Regions from separate parts of the Homo sapiens genome. Here regions 2, 3 and 4 are each linked to region 1. Evidence: fine-mapped expression QTL. A gene starts in region 1. Each other region holds a variant in brackets. All regions are shown on one strand. Distances are from middle to middle. Region 1 holds the start of UBAC1 (UBA domain containing 1). Region 2 overlaps UBAC1 (UBA domain containing 1). Region 3 overlaps CAMSAP1 (calmodulin regulated spectrin associated protein 1). Region 4 has its middle 22 kb from the start of CAMSAP1-DT.

What was found. PIP is the estimated chance that this variant, and not a neighbour inherited with it, causes the effect.
Region 2: its variant is the best candidate, but not a certain one, in a credible set for the expression of UBAC1 in lung (TOPMed, PIP 0.69).
Region 3: its variant is the best candidate, but not a certain one, in a credible set for the expression of UBAC1 in whole blood (INTERVAL, PIP 0.66).
Region 4: its variant is the best candidate, but not a certain one, in a credible set for the expression of UBAC1 in visceral fat (GTEx, PIP 0.79).

Annotation. Positions count from the first base shown.
Region 1 is chr9:135,959,002-135,964,279 of GRCh38, forward strand. UBAC1 (UBA domain containing 1) reads right to left here and starts at 2,372. Exons shown (of 10, transcript NM_016172.3): 1 at 2,024-2,372. The coding sequence starts at 2,161. RefSeq lists silencers at 1,982-2,101, 2,112-2,521 and an enhancer at 1,992-2,492.
Region 2 is chr9:135,935,719-135,940,996 of GRCh38, forward strand. It overlaps UBAC1 (UBA domain containing 1), which reads right to left. Exons shown (of 10, transcript NM_016172.3): 8 at 3,955-4,041; 9 at 2,504-2,642. Among named protein-coding and RNA genes, the nearest start is that of UBAC1, 23 kb to the right of the region's middle. The variant C/T (reference allele first, on the strand shown) is at 2,145.
Region 3 is chr9:135,837,648-135,842,925 of GRCh38, forward strand. The region is part of intron 7 of CAMSAP1 (calmodulin regulated spectrin associated protein 1); the gene reads right to left. Among named protein-coding and RNA genes, the nearest start is that of CAMSAP1, 67 kb to the right of the region's middle. The variant G/A (reference allele first, on the strand shown) is at 2,195.
Region 4 is chr9:135,927,629-135,932,906 of GRCh38, forward strand. No RefSeq gene overlaps it. Among named protein-coding and RNA genes, the nearest start is that of CAMSAP1-DT, 22 kb to the left of the region's middle. RefSeq lists an enhancer at 4,083-4,582. The variant C/A (reference allele first, on the strand shown) is at 2,199.

The sequences.
Region 1 (5,278 bases):
TAATTAGCATTGCATCGGAACTGGCTGCCTAACTGACCCTCCGTGCTCCTGAAATTCATGAGTAGGTATCTGTGGATCAAACAGCTCTCATTTCCTATTTCCTTTCATAAAAGAGTATCATGATGGCCATGCACATCGCACCGAGTGAGTTAAAGTAAATGCCGTGCCAACGCAGGGGACATCCCATGTCGATGCAGTGTGGGGTCCACAGGATATTTTTGTCTATTCCATTAACCCACAAGTTTGTTTTGGTGCCACTCTAAGCCCGGCCCTGGACTTGTGGATATAAACCGAACCCCTGAGGAGCTTCTGTACTGGCTCAGGGAGGACACAGCAGCACCTCAGAGAAGTTTCTAGGGTTTTTTGTCTGGTTTTTTTTTTTTTTTTTTTTTGAGACGGAGTCTTGCTCTGTCGCCAGGCTGGAGTGCAGTGGCGCGATCTCATCTCACTGCAACCTCCGCCTCCCGGGTTCAAGCGATTACCCTGCCTCAGCCTCCCAAGTAGCTGGGATTACAGGCACACACCACCACGCCCCGCTAATTTTTTGTATTTTAGTTGAGACGGGGTTTCACCATGTTGGCCAAGATGGCCTCAATCTCCTGACCTCATAATCCGCCCACCTCGGCCTCCCAAAGTGCTGGGATTACAAGTGTGAGTTACCGTGCCCGGCCCAGAGAAGTTTTTTAAAATACACACAACTAGACAAGCAACACCACCTGGCTCAAACAGCCTGGATGCCCACGGAGTTACCGGCGCTGGAGCTTAGTGATGCCCCGATGGTTGTTCAGACGGCAAAATCATGCAGACTGGGGCAGAAGAAAAGCAAGAAAGCAGCCAAAACATACCGGCCCTTGAACGCAGGAGGCTCAGCCCCCTCCTTGGTGTGAATCCTGAGGCCAGCACCTCCCAGTTATTCACAGCCAGTGCGTTCCAGAAGGGGGCTTGCCAAGCTTGCCTCTGACAGTTCCAGAACTCCACAGAACCATGCTCACAAAAGCAACTCGAAAGTACTGTATGCGAGCAGCTACTATGGTAAGAACTGAAGTTTATCCTTAGAGACCACACTCAGCTCAAGTGTAACGCACTCAACCTGTCAACACAGATACGTCGTAACTTATCACATGGAGTCGCCACTAGAAAATTGCAGCCTCCTTCAACCTAAATTCTGCCAAGCCCTCAGATCATGTCAGGTATAGACAGGAGGTCAGTCTGACACACAGACAGGCTTCTTAGCTGACCTTACTGAGTCCTTTAGAGACTCGAGAACTAGTTCCAAAAATCAGCAACCTAAGGAACTAAATACACAGGAGTATTTCAGGTGAATAAACTTTAAAAAGTGTCTCCGCGAGGAGACCCTACTCCTGGGACTTCTCTCTTGACCAATTTTACCTCTGCAGAAAAGCAGGGGCGCAGGGCCTTGTCCCGCAGCGGCACTATTTCAGGGACTCCAGCTAAAAGGCACAGTGGCCTGGGGCCAGCCAGGAAAAGAGCTCCAAGCAGCCGGCTCTGCGGGAAAGGGGAAGAGGAAGGAGAAGGGGCCTCTTCATGAAGGAGCCTACGTTAATTCTCAGCTCTCAAAGATGCTGCTGAAAAAAAACCTCACCCCAACAGCAAAAAGGTACAACTGCCGGAAAGTCCCGAGGCCCTGCTCCGTCGGCGACTTCACTCTCCAGGCCTCAGTTTCCCGATCTGCCCCTACCTCCCTGCGTGGCTGCAGAGTTAACTGAGAGGCTGGCGTGTACAGGGCTCGGCCGGGCGGCTGGCACGGGGCGAGCGCTTAGTGACCGGAGTCCGCCGGCCGAAAGGCCAGGCCCGGGACGAGCGTCCAGAGGTGTGGGATCCGAAAGGGGGAGAGTCGGGCAAACGGGCAGGAGGCGCTGCCTCCACCCCCGGAGGAGAGGGCCTGGGAGCTGCGGACTGGGCGGCGGACCCCAGGTCGGGGCGGTTCGGGGACTGAGGCGGGGTCCGCAGTCGGAGGGGTCCGGAGCGGGTGTTGGGGGCAGGGGAGGGGGCCCGGCCTTACGTGCTTGAGGCAGCGCTCCTTGAGCTTCTCCACCGAGGTGTCCTCGGTGGCCTCCTCCAGCCACTCGGCGCCGTCGGACGCGCAGATGTGCAGCCGCAGCACCTTGCCCGCGAAGATCTTCTCCTCCTGCACGAACATCCCGCCGCCGCCGCAGGGGCCTGCGCCCGCCACCCGGGCCCCTGAAGGTCACCGGGAAGGCGGGCGGGGAGGGGGCGGGGCCAGACCGCCCGCGCGCTCCTTCGCTGGGCCGCCGCCCCGCCCCGGCTCCCGTCGGCCGGGCCGCCGTCACTCTCCGCGGCCTCAGCGGTCGCCTCGCTCCCGCCGCCGCAGCAGCCGCCGGGGGCGCGCCGTCGCGGCCGCACCGGAAGTGCGTCACGGGCGCGTCTGGCGCATGCCGGGAGATGTGGTTCTCGGACAGGCGCCTCGCTCCCGCCGCCGGGGGCGCGCTGTGGCCACCGCAAAGGAAGTGCGTCACGGGGCGCGCCCGGAGCATGCCGGGAGCTGTAGTTCTCTGGTAGCTTCGTTCCTCCCCGAGCTGCAGGCGGTTCCCACCCGGGGCACTCACCACGTGGGACCTCATGGGTTCTAAAGGTAAAATACACGCTGGATCCCAAAGAAGTAACGGGAAAAAGGAATGTAAGGCATCTCGATAATGTTTTCATATTGATTACATGTTGAAATAATATTTTGTATCTATTGAGTTAAGAAAAATATGTCATTAAAATTAATTTCACCTGTTTCTTTTAACCTTTTTAAGATAGAATTTTAAATTGCCTACATGGCTGCTGTGATATTTCTTTTGCACTGCACTGCTGTAGAACGGAGGCTCTCCAAAGAACTTGGCTTTAACAAGCCTAGGTCTTTCTAATTCACACGCAGATCAGAGAGTCACTGTTCCTGCGAAGCCTAGGTTTGCGGGGCACCCAGAGGGGAGGGAAGCCGCCCTTGGTGCAGGTGATGCCAGGCAGACTCATTTTCTGTGGGGTGTGACAAAGAGTCTTTGCTTGGCCAAACTTAAGCAGGCTCCTGAACCTTCTACATCATCTGTACACTTCCTTGTAAAATCCAGTTTTAGCGAAGAGCCTTGATAAGTGAGTTTAGCAAGAACTCCCAGCCTCAATATCAGATCACCCTGGACGTCTGGTCAGGTTCCTCGTCCCCCAGGTGCTGTCTGATATCTCCAGCCTCTCTTCAGCAAGAACCCTGTCAGGTCGGTTTAGCCAGAACCGCCCACATCCCTGATGTTTTCTCCTATTAATTTTCCATTCACTGACCCCACCCACTTGCCCTTGCTGTATTGGGAGTTGAGCCTGACCTCTCTCCCCACTGCAAGCCCCCTTGGCAGTGGTCTCTGTACCTAGCTCAACAGTCCTGGATAACGTCTTACTTACCATGCTCCTAAATATGAATTTTGTAGTTCAGGTTAGACCTGACACATTGACTGATCTGTACTCATTCATCCCATTCATTTAAAAAAACTTTACTGCGCAGAGATGAATAAGGCACAGTTCCCGTTCTCAGAGGTTAGCAATCTAACCGGGGAGGCTGTCTCTGCCTCCTGCCTGCAGGCTTTTATTCTGTCCACACCATTTTGCACACACATCCTCATTTTTCTCCTGTGATAATTCCAACCTCGTCCAGATTCCATGTGTCCAGTTCAGCACTTACTAATTGCCTCTCACAGGTGGGAGCCTCTGCTACTCAATGAAAATATGGTAGTGATTAAGACCAGACACCAGGATACAGTCCTGGAATGGGGCATTTTTAACGCAGGAAGCAGAAGTACCGACTGTTAGAGACCGCAGTGGAGGTGGTGGTAGTATCGTGGAAGCTGGTGGAGGAGAAAGGGGAGGAACACCAAGGTGGTGAGTGGAGAGTGGGGGAAGCTAGAGGGCTTGGAGGAGCCGGGTCAGAGCATTAAGACGTTGCTGTGAGAGCCACTAACGGTGTGACCAGGTGGCAGAATGAATGGTGGTGACTGTGGAGGGGACAGGGAAGAGGGCAGGGCATCCTTGCGGGGGAGCAATGCGGAGGGAGAGGAAGAGGAGAAGGGGGCTTCCAGTGGCCTGTGGGAGGGGAGGCCAGCAGGATTGGAGGGTGTGGGCCCAAGAGTGAAATCAAGGATGACTTGAAGACTTCCAGTGTGGGTGGCAGAGTGCAGGGCAGTGCCACCTTTTGAAGTAGGAGGCAGGAGGAGGAGCCATTGGCCAGGAAGGTGTTGGGTAGTTTTGGACACGGGGACCTGGATGTGCTGGGGGCATTCACACGGAGGTGGCCTGGAGGCAGCTGGACCTACAGGACTGAAGTTGAGGAGAGAGGCCTGGGCTGGAGACAAACACTGGGCAGCCGGCCTGGGCCACGTAGCAAGACCCTCTACAAAAAATAAAAAAAATTAATGAGCTGGGCGTGGTGGTGCACACCTGTGGTCCCAGCTACTCAGAAGGCTGAGGTGGGAGGATCACCTGAGCCCAGGAGGTCCAGGCTGCAGTGCGCCGTGATGGCACCACTGCACTCCAGCCTGGGCAACACAGCAAGACCCCGTCCCAAAAAAACAAAACAAAACAAAAAAGTCAAACCAGTCATGAGCACACCAGCGGCAGCTGGAACTAAGAGGATGCCCACCCCCCTTCCCATGCAGAGGAGCTCATGAAGAAAACAGAGGAGTATGGTACTAGGAAAGTTCCAAGAGTGTGGCTCCATGAAACACAAGGCGGAGAAGATATTGAGGAGAAAATGGGGCCTGTAAGAGAAGAACCAGAAATATCACGTCATCTCAGGGAGCGTCTCCAGGGACCGGAAGGGGACTGGGGCCCAAGCCTGCCTGGCTGCAGATCTGGTATCTGCAGCCACAGTGATGCTGCATAACAAAACCGTCCTAAAACTCAGCGGGTAAAACAACCAACAGCTCTCCATCACTTCTCACAAGTCCACGGCTGGCTGGGTGGTGCTGCTGACCAAGCCAGGCTGGCAGGTGGGCTGGTCGGGATCCCTAGGCCCTCAGCCTCGGTCTCATGTTCCCCAGTGAGTTCCCACGGGAGTGTCTGGGATCCACCGCAGCAGGTTTTTCAGCCTTTGCTTGAGCCATGTTTGTTGATGTCCTCTGGACCAAAGTCAAAGAGGGAGGGGACAAAGTGACAGGGAAAGGATGGAGCCATGGGAAAGCCACCAAGAGGCCACAGATGCACCTGTTCCACCTTCCAAGAAGGCTGGGGGAACAGAGAGAGGAGGGCACCAGCCACGGGGTGCCCAGCAGCA
Region 2 (5,278 bases), 23 kb before region 1:
TGCTAATAACCAAAAGGAATGCAAGTGGCCAGGCGCAGTAGCTCAAGCCTGTAATCCCAGCACTTTGGGAGGCCGAGACGGGCGGATCACGAGGTCAGGAGATCAAGACCATCCTGGCTAACACGGTGAAACCCTGTCTCTACTAAAAATACAAAAAATTAGCCGGGCACGGTGGCGGGCACCTGTAGTCCCAGCTACTCAGGAGGCTGAGGCAGGAGAATGGCGTGAACCCGGTAGGCGGAGCTTGCAGTGAGCTGAGATCGTGCCACTGCACTCCAGCCTGGGTGACAGAGCGAGATTCCATCTCAAAAAAAAAAAAAAAAAGAGGAATACAAGTTAAAACAATGAAGGTCTTGTCTATAATATGGAGGTGGGCAAGTGTGTGTGCTGGGGGCAGATCTTGCATGGACAGTGGCGCCATCACTGCACTCTAGCCTGGGTGACAGAGAAAGAGCCTATTTCTATTAGGAAAAAAAAAAGAAAAAGTTATTGGACAGACCCCAAGGCAGCACACACTAACATCCTAAGGTATACAAACAGCTGGAGAGCTAGGAGGAATATGCTTTCAGTGTGAAAGGAATCACTAAGAATAAAAATAAACTCACAAAAGACCATTCTCAAGTTTTAGAATTTGGGTACAAAGAAGATCCCTACCTCACACCACACACATACTTCTAGGTAGATTATGGACTTAAATTAAGAGAAACTTTTAACATTTTTGGAAAAAAAAATAAAAGGAAAACGTGTTTCTGACTTTCGGATAGGAGGGTTTTCCTTTTTCTTTTTTTTTTTTTTGAGGTGGAGTCTTGCTCTGACGCCCAGGCTAGAGTGCAGTGGCACGATCTCGGCTCACTGCAACCTCCGCCCCCCAGGTTTAAGCAATTCTCTGCCTCAGCTCCAGAGTAGCTGGGATTACAGGTGCATACCACCATGCCCAACTAATTTTTTGTATTTTTAGTAAAGACAGCGTTTCACCATCTTGGCCAGGCTGGTCTTGAACTCCTGACCTCGTGATCCACCTGCCTCAGCCTCCCAAAGTGCTGGGATTACAGGCGTGAGCCACCACGCCCAGCCATGGAGGGTTTTCTTTAAAGGTTCACATCTTAAAAAAAATACAGACACACTGAAGGACATCAAAACACGGGATTCTGCCCATCAGTGTGAGGAAATAAACCAGAAACTGAACAACGGCATCTGCAACACAAATAATGGGAAAAGGGTCAGCATCCAGGAGGTGAGGACCTTTCTGAATGAATAAGAAAACAATCCAAGAGAAAAGCAGGCCAAACGCTGAGCGGAAGGTCTCTCACAGCCAAGGTTCTACAGGCGGCCAATACGCTTCTGAAAGAAGGCCAGCCTTCAAGATCAGGGCACGGCCATCGCAGCTCCAGAGACACTTCCAGCCTGCTCGGGTGGCAAAGGCCCTCCCAACATCCAGGAACTCAGCTCCTGGGGACCAACAGGTCTGTAATCCCAGCACTTAGGGAGGCTGAGGCAGGTGGATCACGAGGTCAGGAGTTCGAGACCAGCCTGGCAAACATGGTGAAAGCCGTCTCTACTAAAATACGAAAAATTAGCCAGGCGTGGTAGTGCACGCCTGTAATCCCAGGTACTCAGGAGGCTGAGGCAGGAGAATTGCTTGAACCTGGGAGGCGGAGGTTGCAGTGGGCCGAGATCATGCCATTGCACTCCAGCCTGGGTGACAAGGCGAGACTCTGTCTCAAAAAAAAAAAAAAAAAAAAATCAGGAGTGGCACCACATGTAGACAACCCAACGAGCCCTGGGTTCCCAGTGCCTTCCATCAAGAAAATACTCCACAACCCCCACAAAGAACGCAGTCAGTCACAGAGGCCTGCTTAAAACATGATTCTACTTACACAAAGGCAGCAGCAAATGAGAGATTGTTTAAGGAGACACAAATACGGCAAAACTCTACCGGGAAGCAGAGAGGTAAGCCGCGGCCACGGCGACGGCCACACCGGAGGGAGGGATGAGGTGCATAGGGGAGGGGCACCCCAGGCCCAAAGCTGAATAGTAGATACATGGCTATTAGTTTTATTCTTCTTTAAAGTTACATCATCATATACACTTTTGTATGTACGTATCTCACAATAAAAATAAACCATTGCCATCGAAGACCCTGA[C/T]GAGTAGTAAGAGCAAAAGCCCAAACCACACCTTGTCCTCCCGTGAGTTCCTAAGCTGCTGGCGCAGTCTCCACCCCGCTGGCCCTCGGAAAGCCACTGGCACTGGTTTTCTGAGGCCTATGTCAGGGTCATCGCGCAGGAGACAGTCACACCACGATCAGAACCTGACCTGCGGGCCCCACAGTGACGTAGCGGGACTACACCCGCAGGATGCCAACCTGCATGGCAGGACGTGCTGCCAGCGCACGGCGATCCTCAGCGCTGGATCCTCCGTATCGCCTCCGCAGCACCTATTTGTCCTGCAAGGGAACCAGCCAGCCTCCCCGACCCGAGACTTAGCATAAAGAAGGCGCACATACCTAGCAATGTTTTCGGGTTGGTCAGGCCCAGCTGCACCACCGGGTTATCCAGGATGGCCTGAAAGAGAGGACTGTCGGGGTCGATGCCCTTGTCCAGCTCCTCCGGAGAGGGCTTCCGGTCCCCCAGCAGCCACTCGCACTGCAAAGCCAAGAGCACCAATACCACTGTTAGCGCCTTCAGTGCCTCCGCAAGACGCCACCAGCAGCAGGCATGACAGCTCCTGCACCTTTCTGTGAGTTCCTGTTGAGCCCCCAGGGCTGATCTCCCTGGAAGGGACTCTACCGTGAAGACAAACGCAGTCTGGATTCACTGCCGTGCGTGTCAGACCAGGCCAGAGAAGGAAGAGCTAGTCCGCTTTTCTCTGCAGACCCTGGTGTCGCAGGGATCACTGACTGCTGCCGCTTCCCCACTTACCTGGGCCAGTGTGGCCCACCCAGGAGTGTTGGGAAGGTGATTAACAAATGTACCAAGTGCCCAGCTTGCCTGTGGTCCTGTTATGGGCAGTCAGCAGTGCTGGAGCCATGAGGACACAGGCTCCTCATCTCTGTCTTGGAGGTGTGAGCCACGAACTCCACTGGCACGGGGGATGGTGGGGGGGGGATGTGGGCCACCACAGGGACCTCCCCAGGCACAGCTCCATCAGCCCAGCTGGCACACGGGCACAGGACGGGAATCATTCTTGAGTCAGTTTAATCAGAAAAATGGGCTGGGAGTGGTGGCTCATGCATGTAATCCCAGCACTTTGGAAGCCAAAGCAGGAGGATCGATTGAAGCCAGGAGTTCAAGATCAGCCTGGGCAACAAAGGGAGATCTTGTCTCTAAAAAACTAATTAGCCGGGCATAGTGGTGCATGCCTGTGGTCCCAGCTACTCAGGAGGCTGAGGCAGGAGGATCGCTTGGGCCCAGGAGGTCGAGGCTGCAGTGAGTGTGATCACACCGCTGCACTCCAGCCTGGGGGACAGAGTGAGACCCTGACTCCAAAAAAATTAAAAAAAAAAAAAAATGAACAAATTACCCATCCATAAAATATGTACATATAAGGCACCCTTTTAAAAACCTAGAATTCCGTATTTTTAAATTTTTATACTGTTTGAGCCATCTATCCAATTGTCTCACTTTAAAAGCCACATAGCCGGCTGCATGTGAAAGTAGGCAAACACACGGCCTCCACCACGCCCGGGGCGCTCACGAGTGAGGCTCCCAGCACTCGCCCAGCCTGACACACTCACTCACCACAGCCCACACTCACAGCCCACACTCACTCACCACAGCCCACACTCACTCAGCCCACACTCACTCATCACAGCCCCCACTCACTCACCACAGCCCACACTCACCACAGCCCACACTCACTCACCACAGCCCACACTCACTCACCACAGCCCACACTTACCACAGCCCACACTCACTCACCACAGCCCACACTCACTCACCACAGCCCAACACTCACCGCGGCATTCTGCTGGTTGTTGTTCACTCTGAGGGCATCTATCACCTCTTTCTCGTCGAACCCCATCTCCATCAGGGAAATGACGGCCTAGAGGACAGCACAGCCGTTAGCTCGCTGGGGGCGGCAGGAGGCCGAGGAACCAGTGACCTGCGTGCAGAGGGGCCCGCTCCCCGCACCCTAGCGGAGGGTGCTCCCAACAGCACTGAGGACGCTGTCCGTCCACGTTCTTTCCTCACAGCTCTGCTAAAACAGATCTTGGTTTTCAGCATCCTAAAGCCGAGGAAGTGCAGGGATGACTGTAGTTAGCAGAGCCGGGGGGCAGTGCAGCTCCCAGGCTTGTCTTCAGGGAGCCACAGGTTGTGACAGGTAGAAACGCATCGCTTATGTGGACACGAGGCAGTCAGGCCAACTTCAGACCCTTTCAGGTTTGTCCCGATGACTGTGTGGATAAGACTGTCTCGGCAGCCACCGCAGGTTTACCCCAGAGGGCCTTGTTACCCAAAGAGAAGTGGCATTAGGGAAAGGCCACGTCAGTAAGTGCAATCTCAACGGAAACAAAAATGCCATTGTAACCTGTGAAAAAAGGTTTTATTCAGATTTTATCTTAGAAAAAAAAAAATCCTAGGGCCGGGCGCGGTGGCTCACACCTGTAATCCCAGCACTTTGGGAGGCCGAGGCAGGCGGATCACCAGGTCAGGAGATCAAGACCATCTTGGCTAACACGGTGAAACCCCGTCTCTACTAAAAATACAAAAAAATTAGCTGGGCGTGGTGGCAGGCGCCTGTAGTCCCAGCTACTCGGGAGGCTGAGGCAGGAGAATGGCATGAACCTGGAAGGCGGAGCTTGCAGTGAGCCAAGATCGCGCCACTGCACTGCAGCCTGGGCGACAGAGCGAGACTCCATCTCAAAAAAAAAAAAAAAAAATCCTAAAACTAATTTTTTAACTTTTAATATTGAACAAAACTTAAGCTACAACTGAACATATGCTAATTCGTTTTTGGGGAAGGACATACATTTTCTGGACACAATTCATGTAACAAGATAATACATCCTCTACTCTGGAGATTTATACCACAATGTTTAAAGGGGTCCATTTTGAAAAAATATAAATAAGTAAGATGAAGGCTTCATCAAAATTTCAAGGGCCTCTCCTAATCCCTGAAAGGTCAGATCCCACTCTCTTGAAGCCCCCAGAGTCCTCTCCATCTTTGGCAGTTTTCCGGCCACCATAAGGTGGTCTAGGGGTGCCAGCCCCACACAGCTCCCAGCACCACCCAGGCTGACTTCATGCAGCACTGCACCCCGCGGACGGTGCACGTCCAC
Region 3 (5,278 bases), 120 kb before region 1:
CCTTCTACAGACACACGTCATCACGCACTTTCTACCCATTCTAGAGACACACGTCACCACGCACGTTCTACAGACACACATCATCATGCACTTTCTACCCCTTCTACAGATACACATCATCACGCACTTTCTACCGGTTCTACAGACACGTCATCACGCACTTTCTGCCCGTTGTACAGACACACGTCATCACGCACTTTCTACCCCTTCTACAGACACACGTCATCACGCACTTTCTACCCGTTCTACAGACACACGTTATCACGCACTTTCCACCTGTTCTACAGACACACATCATCACACGCTTTCTACCCCTTCTACAGACACACATCATCACACGCTTTCTACCCCTTCTACAGACACACGTCATCACGCACTTTCTACCCCCTGTACAGACACACGTCATCACGCACTTTCCACCCATTCTACAGACACACGTCATCACGCACTTCCCACCCATTCTACAGACACGTCATCACACACTTTCTACCCGTTCTACAGACACACGTCATCACGCACTTTCCACCCGTTCTACAGACACACGTCATCACACACTTTCCACCCGTTCTACAGACACACGTCATCACGCACTTTCCACCCATTCTACAGACATGTCATCACGCACTTTCTACCCACTGTACAGACACACATCATCACGCACTTTCTACCCCTTCTACAGACACACGTCATCACGCACTTTCCACCCGTTCTACAGACACATGTCATCACGCACTTTCCACCCGTTCTACAGACACACATCATCACGCACTTTCCACCCGTTCTACAGACACACATCATCACGCACTTTCCACCTGTTCTACAGACACACATCATGCACTTTCTACCCCTTCTACAGACACACGTCATCACGCACTTTCCACCCATTCTACAGACACACATCATCATGCACTTTCCACCCCTTCTACAGACACACATCATCACGCACTTTCTACCCGTTCTACAGACACACATCATCACGCACTTTCCACCCGTTCTACAGACACACATCATCACGCACTTTCCACCCGTTCTACAGACACACGTCATCACGCACTTTCCACCCGTTCTACAGACACACATCATCATGCACTTTCCACCTGTTCTACAGACACACGTCATCACGCACTTTCCACCCATTCTACAGACATGTCATCACGCACTTTCTACCCCGTTCTACAGACACACGTCATCAAGCAGTTTCTACCCATTCTGTAGCCACACGTTCGCCACGTACCTTCTACCCTGTTCTACAGACACACGTCACCACGCACTTTCTACCCATTCTTCAGAGACATATCACCACACACTTTATATCCGTTCTGCAGACACACGTCACCACGCACTTTCTACCCTGTTCTATAGACACACATTGTTACGCACTTTCTACTCCATTCTCAAGACACACATCATCACACACTTTCTACCCGTTCTGCAGACACACTTCGCTACACACTTTCTACTTGGTTCGGCGCCCTTCGGTTCTGCTCCTGTATGAGCCTATCTGTCTTTCCTGAGGAAACTGATTCATCCTTCCCATACAAGCTTCTTCTCTCCCTGCCTCCCTGCTGATGCAGAGTGTATGAGTCCCTATTTCTAGCTACTCAGCAAGCCACTGTTTCTGTGCCTGCCACATGCATATGAATAGCTATGAGTCTGTTTGTGTCCGTATTTCCTCCCAACAATGCCCAGTCTCTGGGACCAGCAACACTAAGGTGAGCATGCATGGCAATGGTTCCCCAGTCATTCCCAAAGGGACCACCAGCTACGTTCCCAGATGAGTATGCACTGGGAAAGGGAGGGGTCATCACATCCCATGGCCTACAGGTATCAGTGGAGGGAGAACATGCCACAGGAGTCTCTGGCAAGTCAGCTGGGAGAGCACAATGCAAGATCCCGGGACTGTAGAGCCACAGAGAATCACGCGACATTAACAACAGCCCCTGATGTGCACAGGGTACTGTACGCCTGCTGACAGTGTGTTCAGAACTGCCCATCACAAGCTGGGTTCTGCCACCCACTCACTCCAGGGCTAAGGCCGAGTGCACCCATAAGACGGAGTTGTGCCTTGGGACCGAGCCTGCACAGGAGCAGGGGCACGAGCTGCAGGCATACACAGCCCAGACCCTCACGAGCTACTGCCAGGGCACCAGCAGCCCACCGAGCCCCTCTCTACAGCCACACAAGGGCCCCTGAC[G/A]ACCACAGATGGAAAAGGGGAAAGCCTGGGCACAGTTAACAGTGGGTCAACTGGGAATGCAGACAAACTCTGCCATCAGCCACTCTCAGGCCAGGACAACAGACACACACATGAAGCAGCCAGAGGTAGGCAGGTATGGAGACTAAGAGCACAGACTACCACCTGCCAAGACCAGTGCTGACTCCTAATATGGCACCGTCCTGGAGAAGACCAACCAATCACTAGGCAGCAAGGTAACTACAATGGACCCCTTGCAGCCTGGAAGGGCCAGCAGTTCACTTTTCCAAGAGCAGCCGTGCATTCTGCACCTGAGTGTTGGCCTCTCCTGGCCATAGGGTTTCAGCAGGCATCACTACCCAACGGTTGGCAGTAGGACCCACTGCACAGGGCCCCACATAATACTGTATCAGACCAGAGACACTCCCCAGCCTCGGAGGTGCAGAGCGGGCCCATGACTCTGAGGTCCCCCTCCCCCGCTATGTCTCATCCCAGAGTGAACTGAAGCTTAGCTGCTTCCTAGCATTCCTGACTCCTCATTCCTAAGGACCAGCAGGCAAGAAGAGGAGCCCCGCAAGAAGAAGGGGGCTCCAGCCATGACTCACGACGGGGTCCGATGGGAAGAGGCCTTTCCCACCAGGCAGAACAGGTGAAACCACCTCACAAGCAGCAGGAAAAACAAGACTTCCTTCTTGAGCTGGACAGTATCATGAAAAGGGTGAAGAAAGGCAGGAGGAAGGTGGCTGGCAAGATCAAACAGCTCCAATCTGCAGCTCCCAGCAAGATCAACACAGAAGGCGGGTGATTTCTACATTTCCTACTGAGGTACCCAGCTCATTTCATTGGGGCTGATTAGACAGTGGGTGCAGCCCACAGAGGGCAAGCACGGTGGGGAATCACCTCACCCAGGAAGCACAATGGGTCGGGGAACTCCCTCTTCCAGCCAAGGGAAGCCGTGAGGAATGGTGCATTCTGGTCCAAATACTATGCTTTTCCCACAGTCTTCGCAACCCACAGACCAGGAGATTCCCTTCAGTGCTTACACCACCAGGGCCCTGGGTTTCCAGCACAAAACTGGGCGACCATTTGGGCAGACACCGAGCTAGTTGCAGGAGTTTTTTTTCATACCCTAGTGGTGCCTGGAACGCCAGCGAGGCAGAACTGTTCATTCCCCTGGAAAGGGTGCTGAAGTCAGGGAGGCAAGTGGTCTAGCTCAGTGGATCCAACCCCCACAGAGCCCAGGAAGCTAAGATCCACTGGCTTGAAATTCTCGCTGCCAGCACAGTAGTCTGAAGTCGACCTGGGGTGCTCGAGCTTGGTGGGAGGAGGGACGTCCACCATTACTGAGGCTTGAGTAGGTGGGTTTTTCCCTCACAGTGTAAACAAAGCCGCCAGGAAGTTTAAACTGGGTGGAGCCCTCCAGAGCTGGGCAAAGCCGCTGTAGCCAGACTGCCTCTCTAGATTCCTCCTCTCTGAGCAGGGCATCTCTGAAAGAAAAGTATTAGCCCTAGTCAGGGGCTTATACATAAAACTCCCATCTCCCTGGGACAGAGCACCTAGGGGAAGGGGTGGCTATGGGCATAGCCTCAGCAGACTTAAACATCACCGCCTGCTGGCTCTGAAGAGATCAGTGGCTCTCCCAGCACAGCGCTCAAGCTCTGCTAAGGGACAGACTGCCTTCAAGTAGGTCCCTGACTCCCGTGCCTCCTGACTGGGTGTTTACCTCCCAGCAGGGGTCAACAGACACCTCATACAGGAGAGCTCCGGTTGACATCCGGAGGGTGCCCTTCTGGGACAAAGCTTCCAGAGGAAGGAACAGGCAGCAATCTTTGCTGTTCTGCAACCTCTGCTGGTGATATCCAGGCAAACAGGGTTTGGAGTGGACCTCCAGCAAACTCCAGCAGACCTGCAGCAGAGGGACCTGGCTTTTAGAAGGAAAAGTAACAGAAAGGAATAGCATCAACATCAACAAAAAGGACATCCACACAAAAACCCCATCCAAAGGTCACCAACATCAAAAACCAAAGGTAGATAAATCCACAAAGATGAGGAATAACCAGTGCAAAAAGGCTGAAAATTCCAAAAACCAGAATGCCTCCTCTCCTCCAAAGGATCACAACTCCTTGCCAGCAAGGGAACAAAGCTGGACGAAGAATGTGTTTGACAAACTGACAGAAGTAGGCTTCAGAAGGTGGGGAATAACAAATTCCTCTGAGCTAAAGGAGCATGTTCTAACTTAATGCAAGGAAGCTAAGAACCTTGAAAAAAGGTTAGAGGAATTGCTAACTAGAATAACCAGCTTAGAGAAGAACACAAATGACTTGACGGAGCTGAAAAACACAGCACGAGAACTTCATGAAATATACACAAGTATCAGTAGCTGAATCGATCAAGTGGAAGAAAGGATATCAGAGATTGAAGATCAACTTAATGAAATAAAGCATGAAGACAAGATTAGAGAAAAAAGAATGAAAAGGAACAAACAAAGCCTCCAAGAAATATGGGACTATGTGAAAAGCCCAAACCTACGTTTGACTGATGTACCTAAAGTGACGGGGAGAATGGAACCAAGTTGGAAAACAAACTTCAGGATATTATCCAGGAGAACTTCCCCAACCTAGCAAGACAGGCCAACATTCAAATTCAGGAAATACGGAGAACAGCACACTCCACGAGAAGAGCAACCCCAAGACGCAATCATCAGATTCACCAAGGTTGAAATGAAGGAAAAAATGTTAAGTGCAGCCAGAGAGAAAGGTCAGGTTACCCACAAAGGGAAGCCCATCAAACTAACAGCAGATCTCTCTGCAGATACCCTAAAAGCCAGAAGAGAGTGAGGGCCAATATTCAACATTCTTAAAGAAAAGAATTTTCAACCCAGAATTTCATATCCAGCCAAACTAAGCTTCATAAGCGAAGGAGAAACAAAATCCTTTACAGACAAGCAAATGCTGAGAGATTTTGTCACCACCAGGCCTTACAAGAGCTCCTGAAGGAAGCACTAAACATGGAAAGGAAAAACTGGTACCAGCCACTGCAAAAAGATGCCAAATTGTAAAGACCATCAACACTATCTATGAAGAAACT
Region 4 (5,278 bases), 31 kb before region 1:
AAGCCAGGAGGCCTTGCTTGGGGAGCTGGGCACACGCCTGGCCTCCCCGTGATGCTCCCCTGGACGACACACGCACGCACACATGCACGCCTGTGCATGCACACAGAGCACACATGCACACACACGCACACCTGTGCATGCAGAGCACACGCACACACACACAAACCTGTGCATGCACACAGCATACACGCATGCACGCCTATGCATGCAGAGCACACATGCACACACATGCACGCCTGTGCATGCACACAGCACACATGCACACACCTGTGCATGCACACACACACATACATGCCTCTGCATGCACACAGCACACACGCACACCTGTGCACGCAGAGCACACACGCACACACACGCACGCCTCTGCATGCAGAGAGCACACACACACACATGCACGCCTGTGCATGCACACAGAGCACACACGCACACCACACCACCACACACACACTTCAAAAACCACACACGGGCGACGCCGCAGGCAGAGTGTACCACAGCCCCGCAGCTGCCACCCCTGCCCTCTGGGAGAGTCCGCTTCCGAGCTCACTTCGAGGAGGATCTTTCTGGCGACAGAGCCAGTGCTGTGGGCGGGAAGGCCCCACCTGACCACACCTCCTGCTCTGTGGCACCTGTGTCCCCGCCACCCCCCAGCCCGAGTAAAATCATTTCTCTAGACTCTGCGGCTGGGCCCTGGAAGTCAGGCTCTCCCCGACCTGCCAGGGCAGTGCCTGCTGCGGCGGAGCCTGGACACCAGGTCTCCTGTCTCCATCCATCTCCACTCAAGGACAGGGGTGCAGGTCCCAGAGCTTTTGTCAGGACTCTGCCAGCTTGCAGAGCCGCTGCGGCCACAGGGCTCATGGTCCCAGGCCTGCTCCACCACGGCCCTCGGCAGTGGCCCTGATCCCTGGCTGTGGCCCTGGTGCCCGAGGCTCACACCAGGGCAGGAACGTGCTCTTGGGTGTGGGTGGGGTCCACTCTGACAGGGACCTGGAAGGGCCCTCACAAGTCTGGGATCCAGGCCCTTGTCATTCAGGAGCCCAGGAGGGGTCAGCCAGGTCCCCAGAGGGGAAGGGGACGTGCCTGGGCTGTGAGGTCCACAGCCTCTGGGTGAAGCAGAGGCCAGCCCAGGATGGGGCTCACAGTTCTCAGGAGCCCGGGAGGTGGCACTGGGAGGGTGGGCATCCCCGCCCACCCCAGAGAGGCCAAGCACAGGGCAGGAGTGTGGCCACACGGCCCAGGGGGCGCATGGCTGCTGAGAGGAAGAGCGCAGTTGCCTGGGGGAGGCTGAGCACGATGCAGGGTGGACAGAGACCCCACTGCTGGGCGAGAGCCAGGCTCATGCCCTGCTGGCGCCAGAGCCTGCCCACAGCCCAGGGGCTGCCTGGGAGGCGCGGGAGGACCACACTTGGGGCCCTACACAGGCTGGGACTCATTCTGAGCCCCTAAGGACAGCTTGTGGGTGAAGGGAGCCCCTCTTGGGAATGTGGAGAAGAGAGTGGGGCACCTGCTGGCCAAAGAAAGCCCTGGGCCCACCCCCAGTTATGTGGGCAGTGACAGTTGGGGACAGGGCACTCAGCCATGCTCCCCGGCGACTGCTGGGTGATGAGCAGCCCAACCGCAGGCCCTGGCCCTGCCAGCCCTGGGCTTAGGCTGAACCCGTCAAAAAGGCCCTGCCTGGCCTTGGAGAGCCCACCGTGCCCTGCGGGGTATGAGGCTGGCAGACCCTTGAGGACCAAGCCAGGAGACATCCCTGGCGGAGACTCGATCCCAGGAAAGTGCCGGGGGTGCACTGGCAGGTTCCCCTGCAGGAAGCCAGCTCTTGGGAGCCCAGAATGCAGGCACCACCCCACAGGGGGCTCCCTCAGACTCCCTCGTGTGCCAAGCCAGTGAGCCCGCCTGGGAGTGGGGCAAGGGTGGACCTCACTTAAGTGCAGCTGTTCAAGGGGAGACCGTCAGGCGGGAAACCAGAGCGAGCTCTGAGAGAACGTCGAAGAGCCACTAACTGCCTCAGACCCCCGCCCCCAGCCCTGCCCAGTCTGCAGCATCCAAACCCTTGTCCCCCAGAGCCACATGGCTGTGTTCTCTGCCTGGGAGTCAGTCCCCAGCCAGGCACCAGGCATCCTCACCTGGAGGCAGCTGTGCCTTCCAAGCCTCCACTGGGCACAGAAAGCTGCTTGCAGGTGCCACACCCGACTCCCGGC[C/A]CTAACCCGAGAGAGAGCCCCTGGGTGGGCGGGGGCACCCCTGGGCACATGCTGTCTCTGGGCGGTGCTCTCATGGTTAGGAGGCTCGGCCACATCTGCACATGAGGGTTCCTTCTCTCCAGCCTGTGCTGGGCCCAGAACGCCAACAATGCCCTTCCTCTGGCTGAGGCTGTGCCCAGCGCATGAATGCTCTGCCCACCCCACACCCTGCAAATGGCAGCTCATCCTCCTGCCTTCCCGTGGGACCAAGCATGCCTCCAAGGGCAGCGAAGGGCACGGGGGCGAACCCCACAGCTGGGCTGAGGCTGACCCAGGCAGGCCCCACCTGCTCCCCGGATGCACTGAGGCCCCCGATGGTGCTGTCCCCACACCCCCAGCAGGAATGTCCTCTGGGATTCAGGCTCCTGCGGTCTCTGGCTCCCATGCTCCCTGTCCCAGCCCCACCTCCCACCCGCCTGTTCCAGCGAGTGTTTTCCAAGTGCCTCCACAACCAGCCAGCCCTGAAACGGGACGGAGCAGGGCCCTGACCTCGAGAAGGATGCAGGCTGGTGGACCCCCAGCCTCTCCCACATCCAGTACCTCCCGGAGCCCCCCAGTCCCCACCAGCTGACAGTGAGCCCCACCCCTGCCTTCAGACTCCTCACCCGGGGTCCCACCGCCATGCCAGCTCGCTGTAGTGGCCCAAGTGGCTGGGCCACCTCTCTCTGCACCTGGGGGGAGGAATCCCCTGCTTGTGTGGACGGCGCCTACAGTCGGCACAGCAATGTCCTGACCCCACGATCTCAGGGGAAGTCACCCCTCCAGCAGCTGAGCCACGCTGTCCTGGAATCTCAGCATGATCCCACTCCACGAGGAAACGCATGTGTCATCGCCAAGCTCGGCCACCGGAGCAGGAGGGAATGCTGGCCAAGTGAGCCATCTAACTCCCTCCACCTTCCCTGGCACACAGGTGACCTGCCTCGGCATCACACCCTGGTCTAGAGCCCTGAGTATGGCCACAGGGCACTGCCCAGGGGTCCTGCTCCACAGGACCCCGGAAGAAGAAAAACGGCTTAGCAGAAGCTCAAAATGACACAGGTGGCCCTTATCTCAACAGAGCAATGTGCACCGGAACATCTGTGTACGACCCAGCGTCCCCGACCCAGCACCCACGCCCCCCAGAGCCAGGCAGCCTGGCCCCATGGGCTGAGAAGCCACTTGGCCCTCAGCAGCTGGAACACAACTGCGCTCAGGGCCAGGCTCGGCCAGCTGCCTGCCCCTAGTTCATGGGCCACTGTGGCGAAGGCACACATGGACAGCAGCGTTACTGGTCATGGAACTGAAGTCCACGTAAACGAAGAATTTCTAGAGTTTGCCGGCCATTTCATTTCACCTTGTAAGATACAACCTCAGCCCTAAAATACGCGTGCCAGACACAGGCTGTGTTCACAGGGATGGTGCCTCGCCCATGTGTGCGCTGATGGCCTGGCCCAGAGAAGCGGCAGGACTGCAACCAGGCCCAGAGCACTCCCCACCTCCCCAGCAGCCGCTGCAGGAGCAGAAACCACATTCACCAGGGCAGCTGCGACGTGCTCCAGAACCCATCTACGGACGGCCCGCAGCCCCTGGGAAGGCCTCGGCGGCACGTGGTGTTTACTCACCCAGAACTCCACAACTGCATGCAAACCGCGACCAGGTTAAAACGTGGATCCACGCTCACCAGAGGACAGGGCTGGGTGAGAACGCGCATTCCCGACCTCAGGGCCTCTGGGGACTGAAAGGCGGGCGCGGCAGAACACGGGGCTAGCGGAGGAGGCGCACCTGGAGAAGCTGCATGTGCAGGACCAGCCAACGGGAGCGAACGCAGCATCTCCGAGGAAAGGCACTGGCACACACTTCCCTCCTCATGGCCACATCAGGCAGGTGTTGGTGTGGCCCCTCGCCCACCTTGTGGACGCTCAGGCCACAGCAAGATGAGCCAGGCAGCCAGCGAACCCGTGGAAAGCACGGCTCCACAGCCCGCAGGAGGCGGGCTGAGGACACACCTGTCCAGAGGTTCCTCGGAAGGAATTTCCCAACTTTGACTCTTAAACTCGCTGAGGAGAACATTCTCTTCCGACTCACAAGTTTGCCAAAAGAGGATGGCGGGCAAGGAGGGCACTGTGGCTGGCTAGACCCTGCTGACGTGGGGCGGGCCGAGGGCCTGTGGCCTGGCAGCAGGGTAGTAGACAGGCATCTTTTTTTTTTTTGAGACTCCGTCTCAAAAAGAAGTGAGATTCGCTACTTTTTTTTTTTTTTTTGAGACGGAGTCTTGCTCTGTCGCCCAGGCTGGAGTGCAGTGGCGCGATCTTGGCTCACTGCAAGCTCCGCCTCCCGAATTCACACCGTTCTCCTGCCTCAGTCTCCCAAGTAGCTGGGACTACAGGCACCCGCCACCACACCCGGCTAATTTTTTGTATTTTTAGTAGAGACGGGGTTTCACCGTGTTAGCCAGGATGATCTTGATCTCCTGACCTCGTGATCCGCCTGCCTCGGTCCCCCAAAGTGCTGGGATTACAGGTGTGAGCCACCGCGCCCGGCCGAGATTCATTACTTTTGAAAAGCATTTTTAATATTTCTGCCCAAAGAGTTTAAATTAACTTTAGTTTTAAATCTAAATCTCAAAAACAATGAAAAGACCTAGATGTGTGGAGAGAAACATTTTCCGAAAACATTCTTACTCAGCTACAATGCAAGCAGAGTTCAGAAGGGGAGGGGGCTGGTTCAGAAGAGAAGTTCAAAACAAACAGCTCGGAACTGACTGCTTCCAGCAACAATAATGAGCAGAGTTCACAAAAAACAAAATAAATTCATTTTCTCATTTTAAGACACCGGTCATGTTTTTTAAAATGAAAAAAAAGGAGGAAGAGGCCAGAGGTAGGCGGAGGCAGCCGTGCTTGGGCTCAGGACCTGTGTCCCAGGAATACGGGCTCAGCTCCAGTCCCTTAAACCCAATACAACACGAGGCTTTGCCAACCAAACATGGCCACAAGGCCTCCCACATGCTGCGGTGGCCCCGGTGCCCGCCCCGGGTCAGAGCAGCCGGCACGGAGCCGCGGGGA